Linked DNA regions of Homo sapiens: region 2 is linked to region 1. Evidence: fine-mapped expression QTL. A gene starts in region 1. The other region holds a variant in brackets. All regions are shown on one strand. Distances are from middle to middle.

What was found.
Region 2: its variant is fine-mapped to the expression of ST8SIA6-AS1 in testis (GTEx, PIP 0.96).

The regions. Positions count from the first base shown.
Region 1 is chr10:17,379,881-17,394,954 of GRCh38, forward strand. It overlaps ST8SIA6-AS1 (ST8SIA6 antisense RNA 1), which reads left to right and starts at 7,056. Exons shown (of 3, transcript NR_034129.1): 1 at 7,056-7,195. ST8SIA6 (ST8 alpha-N-acetyl-neuraminide alpha-2,8-sialyltransferase 6) reads right to left here. Exons shown (of 8, transcript NM_001004470.3): 3 at 10,651-10,740.
Region 2 is chr10:17,405,922-17,420,995 of GRCh38, forward strand. All of the region lies in intron 2 of ST8SIA6 (ST8 alpha-N-acetyl-neuraminide alpha-2,8-sialyltransferase 6), which reads right to left. ST8SIA6-AS1 (ST8SIA6 antisense RNA 1) reads left to right here. Exons shown (of 3, transcript NR_034129.1): 3 at 2,047-2,365. Among named protein-coding and RNA genes, the nearest start is that of ST8SIA6-AS1, 27 kb to the left of the region's middle. The variant C/T (reference allele first, on the strand shown) is at 7,541.

The DNA of each region.
Region 1 (15,074 bases):
CACATTTTGGTAACCATGAAGGGATTCTGAGTGGAGATGCCCCTCACCTTTGACAAATCTCCTTTTGGTGCCTAGTACCAGCATGAGCTAACTTTATAGCTCAAACCAATAGGACAATTTGCTGAGGTCTGAGAGCACCCTCCAGAGAATCCCTGATCTCCCAAAATTTGGTTGAGATCTAAAGTTTATTTTTCTGTACAACTCCTTTTTGGGGGGACTTTACTTGCTTCCAACAGGAAGGCAAGTTTTCCTGCTTCCATGTCGATGGAAGACAGGTACCTCCTTTATGGACCTTGAGCTCACTTCCAACAGGGAAGATAAGTTTTGTTTTGTTTGTTTTTTTCCTGCTTCTAGCATGGTAGAGAGCAGTCTACAGCTTGAGACCCATGACTAAGTAAGAAACTGGTTTGGGATTCCATCTTGCCAATTATTTTAAACAACAAAAGTTAGTATTTAACAACCAGCTGGTGTTAATGTCTGCTTACACTTACAGCACTCAGAAATCATATAATTTGTGTGATCATTGTTAGTTTTGCTTAATGGTTTTGTTTTTTCTTTCTGTCTTGGTCAAATCTGAAGGGGAACCCTAAATTATGGGGAACAGGGTCTCTGAAGTGGGAGGAAAATGGCCATCAAAAGGAAAAAAAAGATTTTTAATTTTAACTACAAAAGGGGCTTTATTTACATAACAAGGCCACCTTTTTGCCAGCCAGACCAAACTGAAAGAGCAATGGCTGTACTTCTGAAATAGCAGCATTTTGTCCTAGCTGAAATATGGTAATAAGATTTAAAAAACAAATTTGTGTAAGGAGCTCCATGATTAAAAGTCAGCTTAATGAAAAGGCTAACAGCCAAGATGTGTGTGTGTATGTGTTCATGTTTGTGTGTATGTGTTCATGTTTGTGTGTATGTGTACATGTTTGTGTGAATGTATGTGTACGTTTGTGTGTTTGTATGTGTACGTTTGTGTGTTTGTGTGTATGTGTTTGTATGTGTACACGTTTGTGTGTATGCATATGTGTATATGTGTGTTTGTGCGTGTGTGTGTGTGTTTGTGTGTATGTGTACGTGTTTGTATTTGAAAGGCCTTCATGTTTTGAGGGGTTTTTTTTGTTTTTCTCTCCTAAGATTTTGTCTTTTTTTGAGCAAAAGTTTTTTTTTTTCTTTATCTTCTCAGTTGAACGAGTTCTGTCGTCACCTGATTGTTTGACTAACATAGTTATTGAAACAGAGTTTACTCGGGTTTTTAAGGAAGAGTGTAGTTTAATTTGACTCAAATAAAAATGAAAGTGTCTCCCTCTAGTACCACCAGACTTATTCTCTCTATACCTTATGATGTAAATTTTGCTATTTGATTTTCATCTGAGTTGTTTCCTTTAATGTGCAAACTTAAGGCTATTTAGCTGACAACTACCTAGGGTTGTAAAACACATTATCAAGAATCTGAAAGTCTATAATAGGAAAAAGGGGGTGGGGTTATAAATCTATAAAATGTACCTCCATCGGCATGCCTAATACGTCTTTATATGTTTTTAGGTGTTGTGTACACAATGTTTCACTAGTAAAAATACACAAAAGAGCTCTAATTAATTGGCTTTAAAAAAAAGTGCTTAAATCAAATACCAAAAAAGACTAGTCACATGCTTTTAAAGGTTATATAACTTAAGTAAAATCTTTAATAAATAAGCTGGCTTTAAAATTATTGGTAAAGTAATATTATAAGTGTCTTAAGAATTGCCAGCACACATTTTTGTTTGCATTTATTAATCAAGCAGTTTCATACTTATCCTTGCCAAATACTATGAGGTGTCAAAATTTGGCATGGGTTACAAAACTGTAAACCCAGCCCCAAACAGAATGATCTTTGCTTGTGTAATTTTTAATAAGTGAGACATTGATATGCGTTTAATGAAAATAGCTGTATCTCAAATTTAGTAAGATTATCATAACTTCTAATCCTGTGGCTTTAGGCAGTCTAGTCCACAGACAATAAAGAGGTTTGTTTTGGGAAAGAACTGTTATCGTCTTTGTTTCAAAGCTAAACTATAAACTAAGTTTTTCCCAAAATTAGCTTGGCCTGTGTTCAGGAATGAACAAGGACAGCTTGAAGGTTAACAGCAAGATGGAGTCAAGTCAAAATTTTTTCACGGTCTCAGTTATAATTTTGCAATGGTGGTTTCATAACTTTAAATCATGACTATCACAGTTTTCATAAATAATCTAGGTAAACTATTAAAATAAATAATTACGTAAATGTAATGGGATAAATACTTGTAGACAAACTGGTCATAATTTAGAATATAAAGTTGTATTAAATTAAATAATAGATATTTCATATTTGGGAATTTTCCAATAAAAGAAGTTTCAGTGATAATTTTTTTTTTAATTAAGTTTATTACATCCATGTATCTTCTTGCTCTTATCACCCAGGCTGGAATGCATTGGTACAATTTTGGCTCACTGCAACTTCCTCCTCCCAGGTTCAAGCAGTTCTCCTGCCTCGGCCTCCAGAGTAGCTGGGACTACAGGTCTCCGCCACCATTTCTGGCTAATTTTTGTATTTTTAGTGGAGACAGGGTTTCACCATGTTGGCCAGGCTGGTTTTAAACTCCTGACCTCAGGTGATCTGCCGGCCTCAGCCTCCCAAAGTGCTGGGATTACAGGCGTGAGCCACCGCACCTGGCCCCTGTATATGCTTTTAAAGTCCTTGTTAACATTGAGTTACAGGGCTTTAACTCCTGGGTTTGAAAAGGACATCAAGTCCTGCTAAATCTTAAACACTGATAGCAATTAAAGCCTTATCTTCAGGCCCCGTACAAGATGCCAATCAAAATAAACTGCATGCCTGAGATACAGGGCAAGAAATTAAAGCTATTCAACACCTCAAGGCCCAGGGACTACTGTGAAAGAGGTGGGCCCATAAGATCGTAAGGGCCGATTTTGAAAGTTAAAATAAGTTTAGTTTCTCTATAAATTAACCATTAGTGTCAAAGGCACACTGATGCAAAACTAGTATACGGATCCCTGTGTCAGATTAACAAGATTTTCTAGAAGCATTAACCAACTCCTTAATAAAGGTTATAAAGGTTATAAAAGGCTTGTGGAAGTTATATTTTATAATGAAGATTAAATTTTATAGACTGTTTACAAAATTTTGAACAAATGTAATTGGCTTCATGCTGTTTTTATTAGGGCTTCTTGTTTAGAAAATTAAGTCTCTTCTCACAAAGAATGAAGGTTTTCACTTTTTTTTTTTAATACTTGAATTATCACTTTGGTTAAATAAATGACTTCACAATGACCTGTAATCCTATTTTGTAATATCAAGTGTTTTAAACCTTTGATATATGACAAACTTTCTAAAATCAAATTATCAATTATGTCTTTTTCTAATCTAATTAATCCTTTAAGACATTAGGTTCCCTAAAGTCCAAAAAATGACATAATTTGGCTTATTTGGTATAAAAATTATACAGGAAGCATTGTCAAATATAAAGTGGTATTTAGTTTTCTTAGGGCTGTATTTGTATAAATATGTTATTGATATGTGTTCCAAAATTATGGGAAACTCCTGTAATTCTGATATACCTTAGTGTACCTTATCAGTAATAATCATAATTGTTATAATCATTGTGTGCCACAGAGATAAATTTTCTTGTCAATTGTGTTTTTTGACTATGGCTGTCTTAAAACTTCTTTTTCATCCATGGACAATTGTTGTCTTGTTTTGTTCCTCTTTAGAGGGTGGTTTTATAATCAGCTATAAAACTTCAACAGGTGCTTTTAAATGCACGTTTCTAATAACTTTGTAGATTGTGATATCAGAATGCAGGAAAAACTTTCAGAACTCATGGAGAGCTAAAATATTCATGAGTATCAAGCAAAACACAGGAATTAACTGCATGGACTAAACCAATCCTTTTGACTTTTTGCTTAAAATGTTTACTGATCCTTTGTTTTGTTTTTCAGACTCTTAAAACATTTCTTTTGAGCTACTGACAGCTTGTAACAATTTAGTATACTCCCATGAACAAAATTTGGAGCATATTTGTTTCTAACTGATTTCTCTGGAATTTGGAAACTATTTGTGTATATTCTTAACTTATGGCAATACAGTTATTTGCGTAAGTGCAATAGGAATCTGTTTTCATTTGTGACAGGACACAATTGGAGAAACTGGTTATTTTACCAAGGCTTTGACTGGAATGATGTGCTTTCCTTTAAAGAATCAAACTTGACTTACGGAGCCAATAAAGCCCTTGGAAAAACTGGCCTCAAATTTTGTGTACACAGTCCCTGTACAGGGTTTCTGACCTGTGGTAAAAACAGAATGTCACTTTCTGACAGGCACAGTACCCCCAGGATAAACTTGGAACCTCGAGAGGAAATTCACGAAACTCGTAAGTATTTGATGGCACAAATCCATGACTGGGCTTGGCTTTTAAAAAGTCTTATCTGAGATTGCTTCTATGGAACAGAGTTCCATCAAAGCCAATTTAAAAAACTATGTAAAAAATAATTATTCATGCTGCACTATATACAAATAATTAGGCCAAGTATAATAAGCAAACCAGTGCTACCATGATTTGTCTTTAATAACATGGGAAACTGGAGAGAGAAAAAAATTGTGTTTCAAAACGATAGTACACGTGTTAAATTCTAGTCTTGCCTAATGTTTTCTTTTCCATTTTTATTATTTTCTACAGTTTGGACCAAATTCTAATTTTTCTTGGCTGCAAGTCTTCAAAATGATGTTTTCATTTTTTTTTCCAGTTTTCCTAATTTGGAGTCACTAAAATCTAAGCTGTGCTTTCTTCAAACCATGAGAACTGAAGCCAGACAATTTAAACTTAAGAAGAAAATAACAGCAACCAATTTACATACATAAGCTACTTTCATACCTACTTACTAATGTATGGACTTCCGAGTAATTGGCCTATATCAATTTTTCCAGGATTGTTCTTTTGTTTGTAGCTTTTTCCCCCTTCCTCCCCCTAATTTTCTTTTCACAGGACAGGAGACTTCACAACCTGCTAAAATGAACTTTCGGGACCTACCCATCTAGGAGTAAACCATCCTAGCAATGAAAGATCAGATGAAATCTGAAACCAGAGAGTCTGTTTTGTTTTTTGTTTGTTTGTTTGTTTTTTTGTAAAATCATTTCTCCAAAAGATTTTAAAAAAGAAAAAGGGTGAAATGTGAAAGGAAAATATCTTGGGCCTCCAAAATCACTAAGGGAAACTCCAGCTGGAAACTGCTCAGGGCAAACCTGCCTCCCATTCTATTCCAAGTTATCCCTCCCCTCACTAAGATAGATGCGTATCTGATGGCCTTCCTTCGAAAAGCTCATCAGAAACTCAAAAGAATGCAACCATTTGTGTCTCACCTATTTGTGACCTGGAAGTTCCCCCCACACTTCGAGTCTTCCTGCCTTTGCTTCAAGTTGTCACCCCCTTTCCAGACTAAACCAATTACTTCTTACATATAATGATTGATGTTGTCACGGTGTCTGTGTGAAGAGACCACCAAACAGGCTTTGTGTGAGCAATAAAGCTTTTTAATCGCCTGGGTGCAGGCGGAGTGAGTCGGAAAAAGGAGTCAGCAAAGGGAGATAGGGGTGGGGGCAGTTTTATAGGATTTAGGTAGGTAGTGGAAAATGACAGTTAAAGGGGGTTATTCTCTTGCAGGTGGGGGCAGGGGTCACAAGGTGCTTGGTGGGGAGAGCTGGAGACATATTGTCCAGGAGAAGGAATGTCACAAGGTAATGTCATCAGTAAAGGTAGGAACTGGCTATTTTCACTTCTTTTTGTGGTTCTTCAGTTGCCTCAGGCCATCTGGATGTATAAGTGCAGGCTTGGGCTCAGAAGCCTGACAGAGGTCTCATACCTCCCTAAAATGTATAAAACCAGGCTGTGCCCCAGCTACTTAGGGGAAATGTTGTCAGGACTTCCTGAGGCTGTGTCACGGGCGCATTCTCAACCTTGGCAAAATAAACTTTCTAAATTAACTGAGACCTGTCTCAGATTTTCTGGGTTCAAGTGCCTGTAAACACAACACTTTGGGAGGCCAAGGCAGGAGGATCACTTGCACCCAGGGTTTTGAGACCAACCTGGGCAACAAAGAAAGACCCCATCTCTACAAAAAATAGAAATTAGCCAGCCATGGTGGCACGCACCTGTCTTCCTGGCTATTCAGGAAGCTGAGGCAGGAGGATCGCTTGAATACAGCAGGTCAAGGCTGCAGTGAGCTGTGTTCGTGCCACTGCACTCCAGTCTCGGCGACGGAGTGAGACTGTCACACACACACACACACACACACACATACACACAGGCCGGGCGCGGTGGCTCGCACCTGTAATCCCAGCACTTTGGGAGGCTGAGTCGGGCAGATCACAAGGTCAGGAGTTCGATCACAAGGTCAGGAGCTCGATCACAAGGTCAGGAGCTCGATCACAAGGTCAGGAGCCTGGCCAATATGGTGAAACCCTGCCTCTACTAATAACACAAAAATTAGCCGGGCGTGGTGGCACGCGCCTGTAGTCCCAGCTACTGGGGAGACTGAGGCAGGAGAATCACTTGAACCCGGGAGGTGGAGGTTGCAGTGAGTCGACATCGCACCACTGCACTCCAGCCTGGGTGACGGTGAGACTGTCTCCAAGAAAAAAGAAAGAAAAGCATGTAGTTAACCTGCAACGACATCAAACACAGAGTTTCTTCTCCTTCCTCCTGCAAGGCTCTTGTATTGGTTCGAACCCTGAGAGAACGCCAACAAACAACACAAGGCAGTGTGGAGCAACAGGCAGTTTTAATGAATGCCTGAAGGCAGACCTTCAGGCCATTTCAGGCCGAGGCCTAAAATGGCATCAGCCCCAAATGAGGACGGGCAGGGGTTTTACAGTCTCCCGTAAACAGGAAGTGTTTCAGTCTGTGTATCTACTGCTACGTGATACCCGGTAGGCCTCTCTCTGGGTCTTCAGAACAGCTCTCTCCCCGCTTCTGCTATCTTGCTGACGCACGCTGATGACGTAAGCCGCCTTGCGCCTTGGGACTGGGCCTGAGAAGGGAGGAGTTATTCAGGCCTCCGCCAGCTTCTAGGCCCTGGGGATGGTCTTTCACCTCCCTCTTTCTGATCTCTTTTTCATGCTCCTCCTTGCTCCAAAGAAAAGCCGGATGGCAAAAGAGCCCAGAACCTATTGGTGAGTTCCACGTACGTCAGCCTCCCTGGGAAAAGTCAGGCAGAGATGAAACTGGAGGGTGAAAAGCTATGAGGGTGAAAGTGGATTGAGTGGGCCCAGTGGAAGACGCACAGCACCGTGGATTCCCCTTGCAAGCTTAAGGCCCGCTAGTTGGAATTTAAGGAAAAGAAAACAATAATTTTTTTTTTTTTTTGAGACGGAGTTTCGCTCTCGTCACCCGGGCTGGAGTGCAGTGGCGTGATCTTGGCTCACCACAACCTCTGCCTCCCGGGTTCAAGAGATTCTCCAGCCTCAGTCTCCCGAGTAGCTGGGATTACAGGCATGCGCCACCACACCCAGCTCATTTTGTGTTTTTAGTCGGGGCGGTGGGGCGGGGGGGGGGGGGTTCTCCATGTTGGTCTGGCTGGTCTCGAACTCCCCACCTCGGGTGATCTGCCCGCCTCAGCCTCCCAAAGTGCTAGGATTACAGGTGTGAGCCACCGCGCCGGGCCCAGAAAACTAGGATTTTCATAGGGCTATCCTTCTGTGAGAAACGGAGCTAACATACAGGACTGGACTGCTGTCACATCGATTAACCCAAATCAGAGATCTTAGCCAGTATCAAGCTTTCCTAATAATTTCAAAGATCTGCAGAGAAATGAGGGGAAATGGGGCTAGAGGTGAAGTGAAAAAGTTAAGAGATTTCTGCTGAACTCTAGGAGAGAGATTGCAACTCCTTTTACTTGTCAGGATAGAATAGACTATGATATGATAACAACGCCAAGCTCTCAATTGCTTTACAAAACAAAGGTTTGTTTCTTGCCCATGAAATGCCCACTGTATATCTGGAGGGCCGTCTAGGACAGCTGTGCTGTGTGTGGTTTAAGGCTTTCAATGGTTCATTTTCTGTGTCGACCTGACTGGGCTCAGGCATGCCCAGATAGCTGGTAAAACATAATTTCTGGTTATGTCAACAGACTCAGACAAAGCAGAGACAGGCTTGGGACATCAAGGGTGGACACCCCAGTCCTGTCTTCCCACACTGCACATGGCCCAGGATCGTAGGTGAGGTTTCTAGGTGAGGTCAGTGGGCTTCCTCACACAGCAGGAAACTTTAAATTGTTAAACGGTTTCTCTTTTAGACCCAGGGAGTTCCACAGCCTTTGAGCCATTCTCCAGGCAGTCCTGCCTCCTGGATCCTGGATTCCATTAACTTTAAGCAGGACCTCAGCCAGAGATCAGCCTGCTAGGGACACTCAATGGATGTGTCTCTTCCTCTAAGCAAATATCGTTAGTCTATTTACCCAGAGGCTCAGTGGAGAAACAGTTAAACCGGTTTACCTACCTTGGTTTCTTTATCCCCAGATCAAACTCCAACACCCCCAGGGAAGGGAAGGAATGGATTAGAGGCAGCTGTATAAACACTATTTCTAACATTAAAAGAAGCAGTGTGTGTGTGAGAGAGAGAGAAAGAGAATTATTATTAGGAAGAGAAAGTGAAAAACATGAAGGCAGGAAGACCGCTCACTGGGTCTTCCTTGTATAGGATTGGCATGTGGAAATCAGCAATACCTCTTACTGAAACCATCTTTGAAAATTATAACTGAGGAAATTATGACATGAAAGAAATCAGACCTAACTGACTACATCTTGCTTCTAATCTTTAAGCTGTCCTTGTTTATTCCTGGGTGTAGGCCGAGCTAACTTTGAGAAGGAATTCAGTTCGTGGTTTGAGTCTGAAACAAAATTGATAATAGCGCTTTCCTGAAAGGACCCCCTTCTGCCAGGGGACCAGTCTGCCTTTGCAGGACTAACAAATTAGCTACAAGATTAGAAATTACAGTTTAGGGGTCATGCAGACTCTGGCTCCAAGAGTCTGAACCTCCCCATGTTGCTCCTGGGGATACCATCACTATTGTAAAACCTAAGATCAGTACTTGAGATATTTTTCAGACCCTAGACTGGATGGATCAGCTGACACCCCCCAGACTCATAATCTGGCTCAGCCAGTTCTGCCATCCCACCCAGGAACAGAAGATGGCAAGAAAAACTCATTTCAACTCCCTGATTCGCTCCAGCCTGACCATCAGCACTCCCCACTGCCCAAGCGCCTACCCTCCAAATTATCTCTAAAAACTCTGATCCCCGATCCAACGCTCAGGGAGACTGATTTGAGTAATAAAACTCCGGTCTCCCACACAGCCAGCTCTGCGTGAATTACTCTTTCTCCATTGCAATTCACCTGTCTTGATAAATCGGTTCTGTCTAGGCAGTGGGCAAGGTGAAACCACTGGGCGTTTACATTATCCTGAACCATCTTCAAATGTTGTCAGGCAAGCATAAAGCAAGATGAAACTCGGGTTATTTCCTTTCAGGGAGGTTACAGGCATAACCTCGTGTCCCTGCCCAACACACACACATCCTTTGTCCAGCACCATTGGACTGGGCACCTTCTAGGAACAATCAGAGTCTCAGGCCACCAGTGCCTCTTCCATGTAGATGAGGCATGGAGCACTTGGATTTCCTTTTTTTGAAGGAGATGATGTAGCAAACCCTCTAAAATATAGGATTGTAAGCAGCGCAGGGGAAGCTGAGGGAGTGTCACAGCTGAGACTGGGGGGTAAATCGTTCACCTGGCTGAAATTGTAAGCACAATTTTGTACAAGTGTGTATTTTTCTAGGATAGCATTCAGAATACATATCATGTTCTCAAAAGGATTGGGGGCCTATAAAAGTTTAGCCAGTATAACTACATGGTGTTTTGAGGAGTTTTTTGGTTGATTTTAGAGACAGGATTTCGGTCTGTCACCCAGGCTGGACGAAGTGGTGCAGTCATAGCTCACTGCAGCCTTGAACTCCTGGGCTCAAGCAATTCTCCTTCCTCAACCTCCTGAGTAGCTGAAACTACAGACCTGAGCCACCACATTCAGCTAATTTTAAAAATTAGTTTTAGAGTCAGGGTCTTGCTCTGTCCCCTGGGCTGGAGTGCAAGTGGTGCCATCATAGCTCACTGCAACCTTGAATTCCTGGGTTCAAACGATCCTCCTGGCTCCGCCTCTTGAGTAGCTGGGATTACAGGCACATGCCACCCAATTTTAATTATTTTTTGTAGAGATGAGGGTTTTGCTATGTTGCTAAGCCTGGTCTGAAACTCCTGGCCTCAAGCAATCCTCTAGCCTCTGCCTCCCCAAGCACTGGGATTACAGCCATGAGCCACCGCACCTGGCCCCTACATGGTATTTTTAACAAATGCGGATCCAGGGACAAATAAGTTGAGTCCCACTGCCAGGGTCTGACCCTGGTACACATTGTTTGGCCCCAGGTCCATCATGCTCATTAACAGGAGCTTCAGAGCCCAATGGTAAGCCTGAGAGTGAACAGTCTCATATTCCAAATGACTTCAGAGACACTGTCAGACATTCTGAAAATAAAACCCTTGTTGTAAAAGGAAATTAAATGTGAAGAGTAGAACTTACCCTTTCGTTTTGTTAGAGAAAGACTCAATGCCATATTGCAGATTTTTGCATTTCTCCGTCAGTTGGAGCGACTTCTCATTCAGATATGTGCTGTTTCATGAAAGAGATTTTTAAAAAGATTGATTTAAAATGAGAGCTTATAAGATATTGTTAACAAAAATCAGATTTAATTGATAAAGTGTGTCCAAATGAAGTCTCATCTTTACTCCATTATTGGATTTCTCCATGGAAAAGGAAATTAATATTTTCACCTCTGATGGGTCTAAATGAAAAAAAAAACAAAAAACTTACGCTGTAAAGTCAAACATAAGAGAACTCTATTTTGAAGACCTTTTTTTTTTTTTTGAGATGGAGTTTCACTCTTGTTGCCCAGGCTGGCGTGCAATGGCACAATCTCAGCTCACTGCAACCTCCACCTCCCTGGTTCAAGCGATTCTCCTGCCTCAGCCTCCCGAGTAGCTAGGATTATAGGCGCCTGCCATCACGCCCAGCTAATTTTGTATTTTTAGTAGAGACGGGGTTTCTCCATGTTGGTCCGGCTGGTCTGGAACTCTCGACCTTAGATGATCCATCCGCATCAGCCTCCCAAAGTGCTGGGATTACAGGCGTGAGCCATCGTGCCTGGCCTTTGAGGACTTTATACTGGCAGGTTTTCATATTCTGAGGTTAGTATTTACAATGAACAAGTTATTTAATAGTTTTAATCACTGTGTGTTTATTTTATTTTTATTTATTTATTTATTTATTTTTTAGATGGAGTGTTGCTCTGTCGCCCAGGCTGGAGTGCAGTGGTGCATCTCGACTCACTGCAAGCTCCGCCTCCCGGGTTCACGCCATTCTCCTGCCTCAGCCTCCCGAGTGGTGGGACTACAGGCGCCTGCCACCATGCCCGGCTAATTTTTTGTATTTTTTTAGTAGAGACGGGGTTTCAGCATGTTAGCCAGGATGGTCTCGATCTCCTGACCTCGTGATCCGCCTGCCTGGGCCTCCCAAAGTGCTGGGATTACAGGCGTGAGCCACCGCTCCCAGTCGCGTTTATTTTTAAAGGATGTTTTCTTCGGTAGAAAATATGCAGACATAGGAGATCATTAACTCTCTCCATAATGAACACAAATCTGGCCTTTGATTATTCTGATAGCTGCAATATACTGGCCTGGTGCTATTTGTTTTATAAACTTTGAAAATTGGAGGTGGAACAAAAGAAAAAAAATCTGAAGTCAGGTTAAGGACATGGGTTACAAAGTTAGCCTGCCTAATGAGCCTCAGGGACATAGGCATGTTATTTAACCCACTCCAGGCATAGACTTCCATATTTCTAAATCAAGGATAATTGTGCTTACCTCATAGTGTTATTGCCATGATATATATATGCTAAGGAAACAATGTAAACCACTTGTAACATGCGTCACATATATTAAGTGCTCAAAAAAAAATCAACTATCTCTTTCCTTAGACTTAAAAAATATATATGCAACTCTAACTTGCTGTTAATGCATTTATTTCATCATCCTGAAGGTATTCGTTGATAGCCTAATATGGGTTGGGCCCACACACAGGTTATTTAGGACAGAGAGGAAGAGAAAATAGACATGGTCTTATTCCCTAATGGAGCTTGCAGTCTGAATAAGGAGAAAGGTATCAATCAACAAATAACCAAACAAATGAATATAGAATTATGAACCGTGATTGGTTATGGTTGAACCAGAGTAGGTGGCTCAGAAGAGTAGGTCTCTACTCACACTGAGGGGTCAGAGGAGGCCTCCAAGTGAGTGTCATTTAGATGGAGACACCCAAGGATGATCCAAACAAAGTGGGTAGTGCGTTCAAGGCAGAGGAAAAAGTGTGTGCAGGCCAGGCCCAGTGGCTCACACCTCTAGTCCCAGCACTTTGGGGAGCTGAGGCAGGTAAATCACTTGAGCCCAGGAGTCCAAGGCCTCAGTGACCATGATCGGGCCACTGCACTCCAGCCTGGGTGACAGAGTAAGACTCTGTCTCAAAAAAATAAATGTGCAATGGTTCCAAAATGGGGAGCAGCCTGGATTATCTGAGGAAATAAAAAGATAATAGGATTCAAGGTTGAAGAGCCATGGGGTGATTGCAGAGAAATGAGGAGAAATGGGGCAAGAGAGGAAGTGAAAAAGTTAGGAGGTTTCTGCAGGACTCTAGGAGAGAGCTGATGGCAACTCCTTTTGCTTGTCAGGATAGAATAGACTATGATGTGATAACAACGTCAAGCTCTCAGTTGCTTTACAAAACAAAGGTTTGTTTCTTGCCGATGAAATGCCCACTGTATGTCTGGAGGCCCGTCTAGGGCAGCTGTGCTCCATGTGGTTTAGGGCTTGTGATGGTTCATTTTCTGTGTCAACTTGATTGGGCAAAGGGGTGCCCAGATAACTGGTAAAACATGATTTCTGGGTGTGATGTGAAGGTATTTCTGGAACAGATGAGTATTTGAATCAACAGACTGAGTAAAGGCTGCCCTCACCAGTGTGGGTGGGCAGCATCCAATCTGCTGAGCACTTGGATAGAACAAAAAAGTGGAGGAAGGGTGAGTTCACTCTCTCTTCTTGAGCTGGGACGTCGTTTTCTCCTGCCCTTGGACATCGGTGCTCCTGGTTCTAGGACCTTCATATTCAGACTGGGACTTACACTGTTGGCCCCATGGTTTCCATCAAAGTCTCCTCAGCCTTTGGGCTTAGACTGAGCTACGCCACTGGCTTTCCTGGGGCTCCAGCTTGGAGAAGGCAGGTCATGGGACTTCTCAGCCTCCCCTAATTATGGGAGCTAATCCCTCGTAATAAATCTCTTGCTATCTCTCTATTGTTTCTGTTTTTCTAGAGAACTCTGACTAATACAGGGATCCAAATTGCTTCAGTCTTGTGGCACCTTCATTTCAATAAGCTGCTTCTATAATTGATGTGGCAGGAGAAGAACATGCTGGAAGGTCTTGCCCTGTATCCAAATGTTTGAACCAGAATTACAATGCATCATTAGCCAGAGCTGGTCACATGCCCCACCTGATTGCAACGTGGGAGTCAGAAATGAGCCACCCTCCTGTGTCCCCAGAGAGGAGATCTGACACAGGTGTAACTGGAGACTTCAGCACACCTGTGTCCATCGGCAGGCAGAGAAGTGGACAGATTTGAGATCCATTCTAGAGGCAAGACTGACAGGACTTCCTAGGAGATTGGATGTGGGAAGTGAGGGATAGGAAGGCATAAAGGTAAAGAAATAAACAAGACAGATTCATAAGTAATTCTCCAATATTTCTCAGAAATCCTTTCTAAAAACTGCCTGCAGAGTACACATGGGCTCACAAAAGTCCCTCTTAATCCTGATAGAATTTATCTCCCCCGCCACTTCCTTCCCAATTCCCTCTAATTCATTCTCCACGCATCACCTTCTGTGCTTTCTGAATGTATTATACTGTCCAAGGATTTGTTTATTTCCCATTTGCCTTGTATTTTATGCAGGCAGGACTGTTAATGAAGTGAATTACCAAGCCAGCAATGCTTTGAATTACGATGGCGTTGCAGTATTGAATTGTGAAACTGTGACCAGTAGGCACCAATAGGATTGTGTCTCCTATGCCTCTTCTTAAATCAGAGAGGGTATCTTTTTAAATAAAAACTCAGAATAGGTTTAGTTGCGCAAACTAAAATCACAGAAGATACGTGGAAACAAATGAGAGGATCTGGGATAGAAGTGAAGGTGACGGAATGAAGTCTTGGGGACCAAACAGGGTCTTCAGAGTCAGCAAGGCCAGTCTCTGAATCTGGGCTCCACTCTCTGACTTTAGCTCTTGAGCTTTGGGATTGCCTTTAAGAAAAAAAAAAAAAAAATCCTTACCCAATAAAGGAATTTTAGGAATTTAATGGGATGTATATAAAAACACCTGACAAGCAGAAGTCAGTAAATAGATGTGTTCTTACTCTCTCAAAGTCATTATTGCTTTATTTCCTCAAATCAGTCATTGTTATTGCCATAGAGGTAGGAAGCATCTCACACTGGTAAGAAGTCACCCAGTAATGAAAGGTACAGACAGAGAAGCCCTTTTAGTTATCTTTGCTTCTGTACCTTCCCTGTCCCCTCCTTTTCATTTCAAGAGTCTTCAGAGTTTTCTTCCTTTTTTCATCTAATGTCATTCAAACTTGCTCCAGAAAGAGACCTTCTCAATTCTGGGATAAGAGAGGACACTAGCTGTGAGCAGATCCCATCTAAGAGGTTGGGGCACACCACAAGTGAAGACGTTGGGTTGAGTCCTTTTTTAAAAAATGCTGATTTGGGAACATCTCTCAGACAAGTCATAGGGGATTGAGAGAAATTGATCCAGGTGAAAGTAGGAATTGCAAAGACTCTAAACCAGGAACAACATCGTGGCACAAGAGATAGCTGCAAGACAAGCGTGGGCTGATTTGTAAGCC
Region 2 (15,074 bases), 26 kb after region 1:
TTCTATGATTTCAGCTTCCTCAGGTGCAAAATGAGAATAATCCTCTCTTTGATGAATTTGATGCAAAATCTGTATGAGACAATGCATAAAAACACTTAGCACAGTCATTGGAGTGGAGACCCTGCTTAATAATCAGTATTCAGCAGTATTTGTTCAAAGAAACCAGAATGTGTCACCTCAAAATATGCCTCTTTGACATAAATGTTTTTTGAGCTAAAGGCAATTAAGAAGCAGACAGAAAAGCTCTCTGCCTTCCTTCTGTTTGCCTAAAAGCAGGGCAGAGAATTGCAAAGACAAAAGGTCTTCTACCCTCCCCCTATTTTGCACCTAAAGCCAGGATGTAAATTCTCCTTTACAACCTTTTATCAGCTCAGCAACAAAGCCAGGAGATTCTGCCAGTGGACTTCACTCCCTTCATTTCCCATAAATTTGCCTTCCCACATTTTCCCACTTCTAGGATCCTGGGACAGCTTCCCCTTTGTCTTGTCACTTCTCTGAGCTGTATTGTTCTTTGTCGAATATACGACATAAGCCAGACTCTTAAAGCCACTGCTTTGAGTTACTTTTCTCCCACGGGATGTGCACTGCATGCATTAATATACTTGCTTGTTTTTCTCTTGTTAATCTGTCTTTTCTTGTGAGTCTGTCCCAACTACAAACGTATGAGGGTTGAGGAAGAGTTACTTTTTTCTCCCATTCATAGTCTATACAGCGGCGGTTGTTACTGTCTTGGCAGGCCTCTTAAGGCAGCACTTCTTCAACTGCAGTGTGCCCATGAATCACCTGAGAAATGTGTTAAAATGCAGATTCTGGTTGAGTAGATCCAGGGTAGGCCCTAATATTCTACATTTCTGAAACCGAGGGCTAATCTTTTTTTTTTTTTTTTTTTTGAGATGGAATTTTGTTCTTGTTGCCCAGGCTGGAGTGCAACGGTGCAATCTCAGCTCACCAAAACCTCCGCCTCCCGTGTTCAAGTGATTCTCCCCCATCAGCCTCCCAAGTAGCTGGGATTACAGGCATGTGCCACCACACCTGGCTAATTTTTATTTTTAGTAGATATGGTGTTTCTCCATGTTGGCCAGGCTGCCTTGAACTCCTGACCTCAGGTGATCTGCCTGCCTTGGCCTCTCAAAGTGTTGGCATTACAGGTGTGAACCACCACGTCCGGCTACTGAGGGCTAATCTTTTAAGTTGCTTGCACCTTGTTGATTTTTGCTGCTTGTTGATTTTTTAAACCCACATAGCTTAAAGTCAGGCTGCTAAATGCTATAACTTAGCCTTCACTAGCTTCCCTATAAATAACACTCTGACATATATGTCACCATAGTAACAATTGCTTAAGTTGTCTTTCAGGAACTTGGGGCGGCCCCTGTCCAGTTCAAACCAGCTGAGACCACCAACCCTCTGAATGCACCTGCATGGATGTCGGAAAAGTGACACTTGCCATCAGAGGGCCAAAACTCCACCCTCAGATCATGTTAACACTGCTATTTTCTGACCATGTGTCCTAAGAAGAGCCGTGAGCCCAGACTGCACTTGCTCAGATCACCAGTTACCTCACTTCTCCCCACCCTCAATCACCTTTCCCCACCTTAGACCATCCTAATTCTTTACTCCATAAATATCCCTAAGCATTATCCTTGAGGAGGTAGATTTGAGAGCTGTTCTCCCATCTCCTGGCTGGGTTGCCCTGTGAGTAAATCTTTTCTCTTTTGCAAAACCCATTGTCACCATGACTGGCTTACTGTGTGCAGGCAGAATGAACCTGGTTTGGTGTCATATCTACGAGCTCCCAGACAATGCCAGTCCCACTGGACTAAGGGTCTCACTTTGAGTAACAAGTTCTTAAAAGTCTCCTGGATCAAGTTCTTCTGCCCTGACCGTCTTTTTCATAATAGTCTAGAGCAAGACTTCACACACAAGAAATGTTGGACTGTCTCATAGGCAGAAGGGTTTGTGGGAAAAGCAGTGAGTCCATTTGAAAGCTACAAAAGTAAAGTGAGCTCTCATCATGTCACCAATAAGTGTTCTGTTTTTAATTTTCAGATAAAAATCATAATAAAGGAAATAATGGAAGAGGAGACTTATGTTACTGGGGACATCTAACATAATTATTTTCCTGATTCAGTGGCATGGTTCAGTCTTCCAGGAGTTCTGCTACAGAGAAGAGAGTAACCCCCATCCATCATGGCCAAAGCACCCAGTCAGGCTCCGCTCTGGATCCAGCCCGACAAATGCAACCCTTGAATAGGGTTTGTGCAAGCAAACTGGATGACGACCGAAGAAACCCTGTCGCTTCTGAGAAGACACCCAATCCAAGAATGTGAGTTCTGGAAATGTCATTAAATGTCAGTTATATACATGCTTACGTGTCCATATTAGCTATGCAATCACCATCAGCAAGTTCTTTTTCTCAACCAAAAAAAGAAGTAAATTTCTCTGCTAATTAAATATTTCCTCAGGCCAGGCACGGTGGCTCACACCTGTAATCTCAGCAGTTTGGGAGGCCGAGGAGGGTGGATCACTTGAGGTCAGGAGTTCAGGATCAGCCTGGCCAACATGTGAAACCCCGTCTCTACTAGAAAGGCAAAAATTAGCTGGGCATGGGGGCATCTGTAATCTCAGCTACTTGGGAGACTGAGAGAGGAGAATCGCTTGAACCCGGGAGGTGGAGGTTGCAGTGAGCCGCGATGGTGCCACTGCACTCCAGCCTGGGTGACAGAGCGAGATTGTCTCAAAAAAAAAAGATAAAATAAATAAATGAATAAATAAATACATCTTCACTAAAACTCAAATAAGTGAATTTTGAGAGAAGAATTTTATTTTTTATTTTTATTTATTTATTTTTTTTGAGACGGAGTTTCGCTCTTGTTACACAGGCTGGAGGGTGATGGCACAATGTTGGCTCACCACAACCTCTGCCTCTCGGGTTCAAGAGATTCTCCTGCCTCAGCCTCCCAAGTAGCTGGGATTACAGGCATGTGCCACCATGCCTGGCTAATTTTATTTTCTTTCTTTCTTTTTTTTTTTTTTGTATTTTTAGTAGAGATGGGGTTTCTCCATATTGGTCAGGCTGGTCTCAAACTCCCAACCTCAGGTGATCTGCCTGCCTTGGCCTCCCAAAGTGTTGGGATTACAGGCGTGAGCCACAGCATCCAGCTGAAATAAGAATTTTAATGGGAAAATACCTTATCTGTATTCAGTGTTGACTCCATGCTAATTTGAGTGTTTGAGATGGCTATTAGGTGCTGTAACATTAAATAATTTACAAATACTTAAATATTTGAACCATAACTACAGTTTTAAAATAAGTTTACTCATCTAAGAGTGAAGATTCTCTTACAATCTGCAAGTCTATAGCTCAACTTTTACATATTCATGTTTTATATTCATTTTCAGGAAAGCATCAGGTTCAATACCTAGGAACTCCTGTAGAGGGTGTTGTGGAATCTTCTTTAAAAGAACAAAACAAGGCAAAACAAAGTTTAATAGGGTAGAGCAGCCAGGTGTGGTGGGTCATGCCTGTAATCTCAGCAATTTGGGAGGCCAAGGCAGGATCTCAGCAATTTGGGAGGCGAAGGCAGGCAGATCACTTGAGCCTAGGAGTTCAAGACCAGCTTGGGCAACATAGCAAGACCCTGCCTATACCAAAAAAAAAAAGTGAACCTAGGAGTATGAGGCTGCAGTAAGCTGTGGTTGTACCAGTGCACTTTGGGAGGCCAAGGTAGGCGGGTCTTCTGAGATCGAGAGTTTGAGACCAGCCTGACCAACATGGAGAAACCCCGTCTCTACTAAAAGTACAAAATTAGCCGGCATGGTGGTGCATGCCTGTAATCCCAGCTACTCGGGAGGCTGAGGCGGGAGAATTGCTTGAACTCAGGAGGCAGAGGTTGTGGTGAGCCAAGATCGCGCCATTGCACTCCAGCCTGGACAACAAGAGCGAAACTCCATCACAAACAAACAAACAATAAACAAAAACCATAGAGTGATTTCTGGCCAACAGAGCAAGAAAGAAGTGAACCAATGAAAACCGGTCCAAGTCTGGGAGTCAATATGGAAAAGCTGCCTAATTAATGTGGAAGCCCCAGGGAAATGATATACCATGAAAACCTAACACTACAAAAACTAGTTGTCAGACACATGTGAGCAGTGAACAGAATCCTAATATGCTGGTTTAACATTCAAAACTGGAGAGTGTTTGTGTATCTTCTAAAGACTGTTTGGGGTTTATTTGTGGAGTTCAGCTGAGTGTCATCAGAACAAAGATTAGTGCAAAAAATCTTTCAGAAATCATGCCCAAACATTTGCATGCACCTTAAATAAGAAATGAAATAGCAAGAAGAGTATGTCACAATAAAGTATAAATAGCAAGTGATATGTCTCATCGTACTGAGACAGTTTTATAAATGAGGCAAAGGCCTTGTCAAAAAATAATGATGATTTTCAAAATTCTGAAACGCAAAGGAGGAAAACTACTTCATTCAGTTAACAGGAAGCACACAAGAATCTCCCCATCAACCAAGATTTTTTTTTTCTATAACCCACGCTTTGTAAGACAATAATAGCAAAAACTATAAACTAGAATTTGTTGAAAGAACAACTTCTAGAATTTGCCCTTTATGTGCTGTTTTACCATTGTCATGTCTGTCTCTGGTATGACTTCCTCATCTATTAGTAGCCTCCTAATAAATTTGAACAAATGAATGAATGAATAAGAGACAACTAAGCATGAGGTATTGCAAGATGGTAACTCATCCAGGGAAAATTAAAACCTGGAGTGGATCAGATGGAAAAACAAAATAAGACACTAGAAAAAAATCACCAGGAGGGTTTCAAACCAAAAGATCCCCTGGTTAACCTTCAGCTAATTATAAGATTTAATTAACTAGAAAAACTCAATCCTTGTTTATTCTATTTAATTGAGATTTTACCATATTTAAAATGATGTTACTCAAGTGTTCTCATTAATATTTAATGAAAGTGTGAGAGAATTGGCTAACCAAATTTACTGTGCTTAGGTAAACTGTAATTAGGAAGGGTTAGCAGAGCATCCCAAGGGACCTATCAATCACAAAATGAAGCGATACAATTACAGATGAATTTCAACAAGGAAACACACAAAACAGTGATCCTCAAAAAAGATGGAATAAAATTACTTGAATGTGGTAGTCGGTTCTGAGAAATGCAATCAATCACATGTCATTTCAGACAACTCAGAAGGAATAACCCTACCCAACAGACTTGAACTCTTTGTGTGTGTGTGTGTGTGTGTGTCTGTGTGTGTGATAGAATTTCACTCTTGTCGCCCAGGCTGGAGTGCAGTGCGATCTCGGCTCACTGCAACCTCTGCCTCCCAGGTTCAAGCAATTCTTCTGCCTCACCCTCCCTAGTAGCTGAGATTATAGGTGCCCACCACCACACCCGGCTAATTTTGTATTTTTAGTAGAGAAGGGGTTTCACCATGTTGGCCAGGCTGGTCTCGAACTCCTGACCTCAGGTGATCTTCCCACCTGGGCCTCCCAAAGTGCTGGGATTACAGGCATGAGCCACTGCACCTGGCCCAGACTTGAACTCTTGATTGCATGAAAGTGTATTAATCTTCTATCTGCTTATTCCCAATTTCCCAGCTGATAAAATGCCCCACTGTTATTTCACTTAAATTTGGAATAACCTGCATCTAGTTAAGTTGGAGCTACTTTGTCTTGTTGCAGATTTTCTTTTGCTTTGCTGTCTTCATTCTAACTTGGCAGAGCCCAGGTGCTTTGTCTCTATTTGCCTGCAAGACCTCTTTTCCAAGACATGTCAGGTTTCTCTCTAAAGTACCTTCCACCTGGAGGATATCTGTTCTTGTTCTTTAATTCCTGGCCCTATTTCCTATTCATCTGAAAAACTAGGCTTTGTGAGCAGGATCATGCATGGCAATGAGTTCTAATGAGTTTTTAATGTTTCACACTTCATGATGAACATATATTTGCATTTCAGAAAATGCTTTTAAGGAATGTTTTTTTTTTTCTGCCCTCACTCCTAACTCAGTTGCCTTTAAGCAAAACCAAAGAGAGCCATGGCCAGCCTGTTCAAATGGCTGCAATCATTTAAGCCCCTCTCGCTGCACCCTGGCCCCTCTTGCCTCCCTAGCCTGCCCATGCTTGCCCCTGTCTCAACTTCTACCCCCACTCCAGCTGAAGAGATTTGCCATTCTCAGCTTTCACCTTTGGGGATCCCTCTTGACCATGGTTAGCAATTGCTGTGACCATCCTCACATCACAGATTTTTGGGCTTCTGTTTCTTAGGACAATGCCTGCTCTCCCTGCTAGCCTATCCCTCATCCCAGGCCCTCCAACCTCCAGCCACTGCAACTCTAGAGCCACATCCTATCCCATTGACTAACCCAACTGCCAAGCCAAGCCCAATCCCCAGACCTGGAGCTCAGAGAAATTATTAATCCAATCAAAGGCACTAAAGTTGGGATTCTGACTCTGAAGCAGGTACCAAATTTTGGACAGAGAGGGGCTCCTGAAACCATACTATTCCTGCATTAAGTGTCTGGCACTAGGCAGGGGATATGATGTGATCTAACAAGGCCATGCACTGGAATTAACCTGCGTGAGCTCCACTTGGCTGCCCTCTAAAGGTCAATGCATTGTTTGAGCCTAGGGGAGCCAGTCACTGCTACATCAATGGCTGCATCACGGTATCCTTTTTAGGACTAAACCTGCATTTTCCTAATATTCAGGTCTGTAGAAACTTTGACTGCAAGAATTTTACAGGAATGGGTAAATATCTGTAAGTACTTAAAAGTATATATGGTAATATACAATATGATAGAAGAAATAAGACCTAATGTTAGATAGATCAGCAGGGTAATTATAGTTTACAACCATCTTTTGTACAATTCAAAATAGCTACAAGAGAAAAAGGTGAGTGTTTTTAGCATAAAGAAAAGACAAATACTTAATGGATATCCCAAGTATACTGATTTGATATTTACAAATTATACAAATGTATTAAATTGTCATGTGTACTCCAAAACTATGTACATTATTATGCATCAATTAACAAAAGATAAAAGTATGTATGAATCAGTAAGTACTTCTAAGGACCTGTAAATCCATATAAGTGCACATTAGTATAAGAGAACTAAGGAGAATTTGAGATCAGTGTTTACACAGTGCTAGCATTTTGTTATCTAAAACACCTCTTTTTCAACTCTATCAAAGATTGAATGCATTTTTTAATTCAAGGAATATAATATTCAGGATGATTATTTTTATTACAGCTGTGGGCTTTTTCCTTGGGCATTGAACGCTTCCATTTAGTTCAACTACTTATTATCTTTTCTTCTCCTCTTCTTTTTTTTTTTTGCTTAACTTTCTATTTCTTTCCCAGTAATAACATATATTTTCTCAACTTCTTAAATCTCTTTATTAGATACAGTCGAATGTAATTTGGAATTTACGAGTCTTATCACATTCTCATTCTGCTTGAGCAATTCAAGATATAAGAAAAACAGACTGTCTACATTTCTTCAGAGTTCCTCCAA[C/T]TATTGGCTTAAAATTCCTGAAATTAAAATTATAGTTCTTTGACATCGCTTCTGTCTAATCATTGCTGATACCTGGAAAACACCAAATGGCTTACTTACACAGTGTCCCACTCTGAAATTTCTCACATAAAGGATTGTCTTACACAGAAATACTGACCATTTTGACAAGGGAATGGCCCTAGAATTGGGCCAGAGCTAAAAATAAGCAGAATAAACAATTTTGATATTCTTCTTCAATGGTCATAAATCTAGTTAGCATGTTATCATTTACATATTATGATTTTGTTCATGATAGTTGTAGTAGAATGGCCTAAAGAAATCAAGATCTGTTTTATCTTCTACATTACTTTAGTTACTGTAAGACTGATAACTCACATTGTCGTTTACCAAGTATTTCCATTTGTTCCTTGGAATAATCCTGTGAAGTGGGTATTTTTTATCACTAGTTTCATATAATGAATATATTACTGTTAATGTCAATACATTCTATTTATCCAGCTCACTTATTCTAGTATTCTCTCTGCAGTGATTCTTTAATCTCATTGAGAAGCCCCCATGCCCAATACACGCCTCCTATCTTCATACACGCCTCCTATCTTCATTTCCCTCCTTCCCCAACTCACACCCTTGAAAACATTCTTATCTCTCTTGTTTCTTTTTCTGTTGTCCTTGACTGGCAAATTTGGAGGCATGGATGTACCCAACTCTTTGCCATTTGGGGCTACCCCCAACTAGCCAAATACTGCTAGAGAAACTCTCCTGAATGATTTCACTCTAAGTTCTATGAACTTCAAATGGGCATTTAAGGATACCTGGCAGTCCTACTATGTTTTCCTAATAAATTTCATTTTCCTCTTTCAAAATTGTTATTTATTCTCCCGTCTCCTCCAACCTCCCATATCCCCACCTCCACACTCACTCTCTGCTGCTGATGACCTCACTTCATACTTTATTGAAAAAAATAGAAGCCTGCAGAGGAGCAACACTTTCATACTGCTCCCACTGTATCTAAAAATCTCTAAGTTTCTGTGCCTGTCTTAGTCAGCTTGGGCTGCCATAACAAAATACCATAAAATGAGTGGCTTAAACAACAGAAATTTTTCATCTCATATTTTGAAGACTCAAAATGTTGGCATCGTTGGTACCTGGTGAGGGCTCTCTTCCTGGCTTGCAGACAGCTGCCTGCTGGCTGGGTCCTCACATTGTCTTTTCTTGGTGCATGCATGAGGGAGAGAGTGCTAGTGTCTCTTCCTCTTCTTATAAAGACACCAGCCCTATCAAATTAAGGGGTAGCTCTATGACCTCATTTAAATAGAATTATCTCCCTAAAGACCTTATCTTCTAATATAGTCACATTTGAGACTGTGGCTTCAACATGAATTTTGGGGAGACAGAATTCAGTCCTTCAGAGTGCCTGTGTTTTTCATCTTACCATATGTTACAACAGAAAAAAATGTCCCTGCTCTCATCAAAAATCAGTAACCCCCAGTATGTTCTGGCTCCTGCCCGTCTCACTTTCTTAACATTACTGACCCCCTCATCTCTTCCTTCTCTTACATAACTAGGGTTATCCTTCTCACAAGCACACAAACACGCTCCTCCCTTGACTCCATAATCCCTCTCCATCTCCCAACTCATTTTTCTACCCCCTGTAAGCACCACTTCTCTAACAAATTATCTAAAATTACTGCTTCCCCTTCCTCAACAATCTATTCCCTCATCAGAAGACTTAAAACTGGCTAATGTAGCTTCTGGGACTCAGAAAATGAAAGCCCAAAATATGACACTTCAGACTTCAAACTGAGAGCACATGGAGAGCAGCAAATGCAGAGAAGGACTTTCCCCAAAGGTCCCTCCCTACCTAAACACAGGATTCTCCTAAGATACTCAATCATTGTCAATCGCTTCCCCAGGGTATCTCAATGACTGGGAGAAGACTGAAGCCTATCCCAGGAAAAGAAGACTAGAATTGATGACACACCAGGAGTCCAGATGGGCTTTGTCTCAGACTACCATCTGTTCTTCAGGCCCATTCATCTTCCCTAAAACTCATTTACTCCTCCTCTAAATTGTCTGCATCCCACCCTTCCCCCTCCCTGTGAAGAAGGGTATATAAGCTTCTAAATCCCATTGGGTCATTGGACACTCACCTTCCTGGAATGCACGCATACACATAATATATGTGTTAGCCTTTTCTCTCGTTAAGTGATCTGTTAGTTTATTTCTCAGACTCAAATATCAGACATGCAGAGTGGAAAGAAAGGGCTCTCTCACCCAACATGGCTCATCTCAAGCTCATCAAAAGCCCCCATGTTCCAAATTCAATGGACGCCTCACTTGTCTTTTTTTTTTTTTTTTTTTTTTTTGAGACAGAATCCTGCTCTGTCACCCAGGCTGGAGTGCAGTGGCATGATATCGGCTCACTGCAACCTCCACCTCCCAGGTTTATGCGATTCTCCTGCCTCAGCCTCCCGAGTAACTGGGATTACAGGTGCGCCACCGTGCTCAGCTAATTTTTTTATTTTTAGTAGAGACAGGGTTTCACCATGTTGCCCAGGCTGGTCTTGAACTCCTGACCTCAAGTGATCCACCGGCCTCAGCCTCCCAAAGGGCTGGGATTACAGAGGTGAGCCACTGTACTGGGCCGCACTTATCTTACTTGATCTTTCAAGAACACCTGACCCAGTCAACTGCTCCTCTTCCCTGAAAACCACATCACACTCTCCTGGTTTTCTTTCTGCATCCCTGGCTGCTCCCTCTGCCTCTCCTTTGCTGGCTTCTGCTTCTCTTTCAAGCCTCTAAATGTGGGAATACCCTAGAACTTGCTCCTAGATCCCCTTTTCTTCTCCACCTATCTCCAGAGCTAAGTGAGCTCATTCTACTCTCTGGCTTTGAGTCCTATCTCTCTGGCGATGACACCCAGATTGATATGTGCAGTTCTGACCTCTCCCTTGAGCTCCAGACTCATTTATATGGTCGAAATGCCCATCTGACATTTCCAATTGGACGTCTAATAGTCTTGTCAAATGTAGCATATCCAAAACATAACCTTTGACTTCCCTCTTTTCCAGTCTTCCCCATCTCTATGGATGGTAATGAACTGCTCAAGCCAAACATTTATCATTCGGATTCCTGTCCTTCTCTTCTCTCCTATACCCGGGCTTTTGACGATTCAGCCGTAAATCCATCTACTTCTCTTTATCGGTACTTCTATTGCCTCATTCAAGGCACATCAGCTCTTGTCTGGATGGAAGCCATGGCCCCATAAGTAGTCTTTCTGCTTCAATTGCCTGACTGCCACACATTCTCTATGCAGCTATCAGAGTACTCTTTTAAAAACTTAAATCATACTTGTCATACATGACATATTGTCATGCCCTTGCTCAGAACCCTTCTGAGGCTTCACTTATTATTAGAATAAAACTCATCCTCACCAAGGCTTGCATCCTACAACATAACCTGACTTAGTAGGTCTATTTCCTCCTTTGCTCTCTGTATTGGTCCATTTACATTGCTGTAAATAAATGCCTGAGACTGGGTAGTTCATCAGGAAAAGAGGTTTATTTGGCTCACAGTTCTGCAGGCTGTACACAAAGCATCGTGCCAGCATCTGCTTCTGGTGAGGGATTCAGGAAGCTTATAATCATGGCGGGATGTAAAGGAGAGCCAGCACATCACATGGATAGAGAGAGAGAGAGAGGAGACAGTGCCAGGCTTTTTGAAACAACCAGATCTTGTGTGAACTCAGAGAATAAGAACTCACTCATTACTGCCGAGACATTCATGAGGGATCTGCCCCCATGACCCAAACACCTCTCACTAGGCCCACTTCTAACACTGAAGCTCACATTTCAACATGAGATTTGGAGGGGACAACCATCCAAACCCTATCACCCTCCATGATCCATTCTTTCTGCTTCTCAAATATGCCATGTTTAGGGCTGCTGTTCCTCTGCCTTGAGCGTTCCTGTTAGTGCTTCAGGTCTTAACTCGAATGTCAACCCCTCAGAGTGACTTTTGCTACTCCCTATGGAATGCTCACCTCCCACCCCCGCCATCAGCATTTATTTCGACTTCTTTCCTACCACTTAGCACAGTGAGCTCCAGGAGGGCAGGCTTTTGTCTGGCATGCTCCCTGCACATTCTCCAGCACCAAGCACAGACCTGGCACACAATGAATGTTCACTGAAAGAATGAAGTTGATCTCAGACTCTCCACCCAGCTCCAGGCTGCCAAAATAAGCCCCTAATTGCCTTCCCTGCTTCTCCTTTTGTTCCTGCCCCATCTGTCTCCTAGGGAGAATTGTCTCAGCTAGACCAGTCCTGGGCTCTTCACACATCAGAGTTAGAGAGTTGACAGGGAATTAATAGAAGATAGAACCTGAAAGGCTTAGGAGGGGTAAGACTTGGAGAAATCTGTTGTCAGTCAAAAATAATAAAGTACAGAGGTGTATGTGAGGAGGTAGGGGAGGGAGTACAGGAAGGGGAAAGAAATCTATATAGTCCAGGTGTAAGTGAGAAAGTTCTTTCAGCATTTGTCAAACTTGAGTTTGGGAGAGGGTGTGGGAAATAAATAACTGAGAAGAGTAAATGGGATTGCAGCATAGATGAGGATTCTGAATTAGGGCCACTCTGTCACCCAGGCTGGAGTACAGTAGTGCGATCAAAGCTCACTGCAGCCTGGAGCTCCTGGTCTCAAGCAATCCTCCCACCTCAGCCTTCCAAGTAGCTGGGACTACAGGCATGTGCCACCAAACTCAGCTAATTTTTTTTTGCATTTTTTTGCAGATATGGGGTCTTGCTTTGTTCCGGCTGGTCTCAAGCTCCTGAGCTCAAGTGATTCTCCCAAAGTGCTGGGATTACAGGCATGTGCCACCATGTGCAGCCTGGAGCCCTTTTTATGTACTTTAAGAAGAAGGAAAATAAGGACACAAATTTTTTTTCTGGCATGTTGAGTTGTGCTTCCTGAAATACCAGCCTGGGCTGAATGCCATGGGCCTGTGATTTCAACAAGGTTACATACATATGAGAAAACTGAAGCTCTGAGTGTTCATAGGACATGACCACTGTCATTCAGTTGATAGATGACAAAAGGAGGATTCGAACCCATGGCTTTTACCTACAGGGCCCTTGTTGTTACAAGCATTCTCCTTGCTTCCCTCCAAAGCAAGAAATGAGGTTAGCCAGACATATGGCCTCCAATTGTTATCATTTTCCTTTCAAATTGTTTACAGTAATTTAAGTCAAGCTAGCTGGGCGCGATGGCTCATGCCTGTAATCCCAGCACTTTGGGAGGCCGAGGCAGGTGAATCACTTGAGGTCAGGAGTTCGAGACCAGCATGGCCAACATGGCGAAACCCCGTCTCTACTAAAAATACAAAAATTAGCCAAGCGTGGTGGCAGGTGCTTGTAATTCCAGCTACTGGGGAGGCTGAGGCAGGAGAATCGCTTGAACCTGGGAGGCAGAGGTTGCAGTGAGCGGAGATCGTGCCACTGCCGTCCAGCCTGGGCAATAAGAGCAAGGCTCCATCTCAAAAAAAAAAAAAAAAAAAAAAGAAAAATTTAGTCATGCTCACCAATCTATGGTTTCCAAAATAAATCTTTATCTTCCCTTTACATAGCAAAATAACATTTTTTCCCTTTGTCATTTTCTATCATCTCTCAACTTCTCTGTGATTCATTAATGATCACCAGTAGTAAGTATCGAATTACACATATAAAGAACCTTTAGTACCAGGCTGTAATTTTTCTCCATGTGGAGAATGAAATTTGCTTAAAATGACTGGAAGAGCTGGGGGCAGTGGCTCACACCTGTAATCCCAGCACTTTGGGAGGCCAAGGCAGGAAGATTGCTTGAGCTCAGGAGTTCGAGACCAGCCTGGGCAACATGGTGAGACTTTGTCTGTACAAAAAATTTTTAAATTAGCTGGGCATGGCAGTGTGTGCCTGTGGTCCCAGCTACTTGGAAGGCTGAGGTGGGAGGATGGCTTGAGGGGGAGGATGAGTCTGCAGTGAATCATGTTTGTGCCACTGCACTCCAGCCTGGGCAACAGGGCAAGACTCTGTCTCAAAACAAGCAAACAAAAACAAAAAAACAAAAAAAATAACGACTCCACACAGTCGCGTTTCCATTGCCTCCTTTATGGCTAGATGTTTCCAATATGAAGATCATTGTCTTTGAAAAGGAAGTCATAGACAGAAGAAAAAAGGAGCTGTTCTGATTTCCCCACCCTCAGGGAACAATATGCCATCTGCTCCAAACAGTGAGCATCATATCCCTTTCTTGTTTTTGTTTAAAACATGGCTATCAAAAAACATTGGAGGTTCTTGTATCCTTTAGCTTTTTTCCTACAATCTTCTTACAACTTCACAGCCATTGATTTGCACACATTTTTTTAACACACACTTTATCTTTCCACCTACCCTTTCTGAATCTGATATCATGCAGTCATGCTAATTTGAAAGATGCTTTCCTATTTTTTCTTTTGCATTTATATCATCAGAATTTCCTTTAAAAAATATTACAACCTGGTGGAGACTTAAATAGACACACGTTTTCCAAATGGATAAGGAGGAGGTTTTAAAATGATAACCATGATATAGTTAACTTTTAAAAAAAATTATTACCTCAAAGTCTAAAGACTCTAAAGTGCTTTATAAAAGAGATAGTGGGCTGGGCACTGTGGCTTATGCCTGTAATCCCAGCACTTTCGGAGGCCGAGACGGGCGGATCACGAGGTCAGGAGATCGAGACCATCCTGGCTACACGGGGAAACCCCGTCTCTACTAAAAATACAAAAAATTAGCTGGGTGTGGTGGCGGGCGCCTGTAGTCCCAGCTACTCGGGAGGCTGAGGCAGGAGAATGGCGTGAACCCGAGAAGCGGAGCTTGCAGTGAGCTGAGATCACGCCACTGCACTCCAGCCTGGGCGACAGAGCGAGACTCCGTCAAAAAAATAAATAAATAAAAATAAATAAAATAAAATAAAAGCTAGTGCACATTTTTGTTATGGTGAAAGTCATGTGAATATTTGCATTACATGTGATCATACCCAAAAACTCTATAAGGGTCATCTAGAGACTAGATACTCATGCATATCTCCTGGGGCTGATTTAGGCACCATGAGATAGTTGATAACACCTGTACAGAATGCTGTGGCATGCCACCCAGGCCCTCTACTTTCATCCTGCCAGCTACTGGGAGTTTTGTCTGCTGATGGCCCACACTGGATCCTTCCCACACAGGTGTCCTCTGTGAAAGGAACTGTCTCTTCCAAGGTGACACCTTGTATTGGTGTCACACTACTATAAAGAACTGCCTGAGACTGGGTAATTTATAAAGGAAAGAGGTTTAATTGACTCACAGTTCCACCTGAGTGGGGAGGCCTCAGGAAACTTACAGTCGTGGCGGAAGGCAAAGGGAAAGCTGGCACATCTTCTAACAGGGCAGCAGGAGAGAGCAAAGGGGGAAGTGCCCACACTTTTAAACCATCAGATCTCATGAGAACTCAGTCATGAGAACAGAACACGAGAACA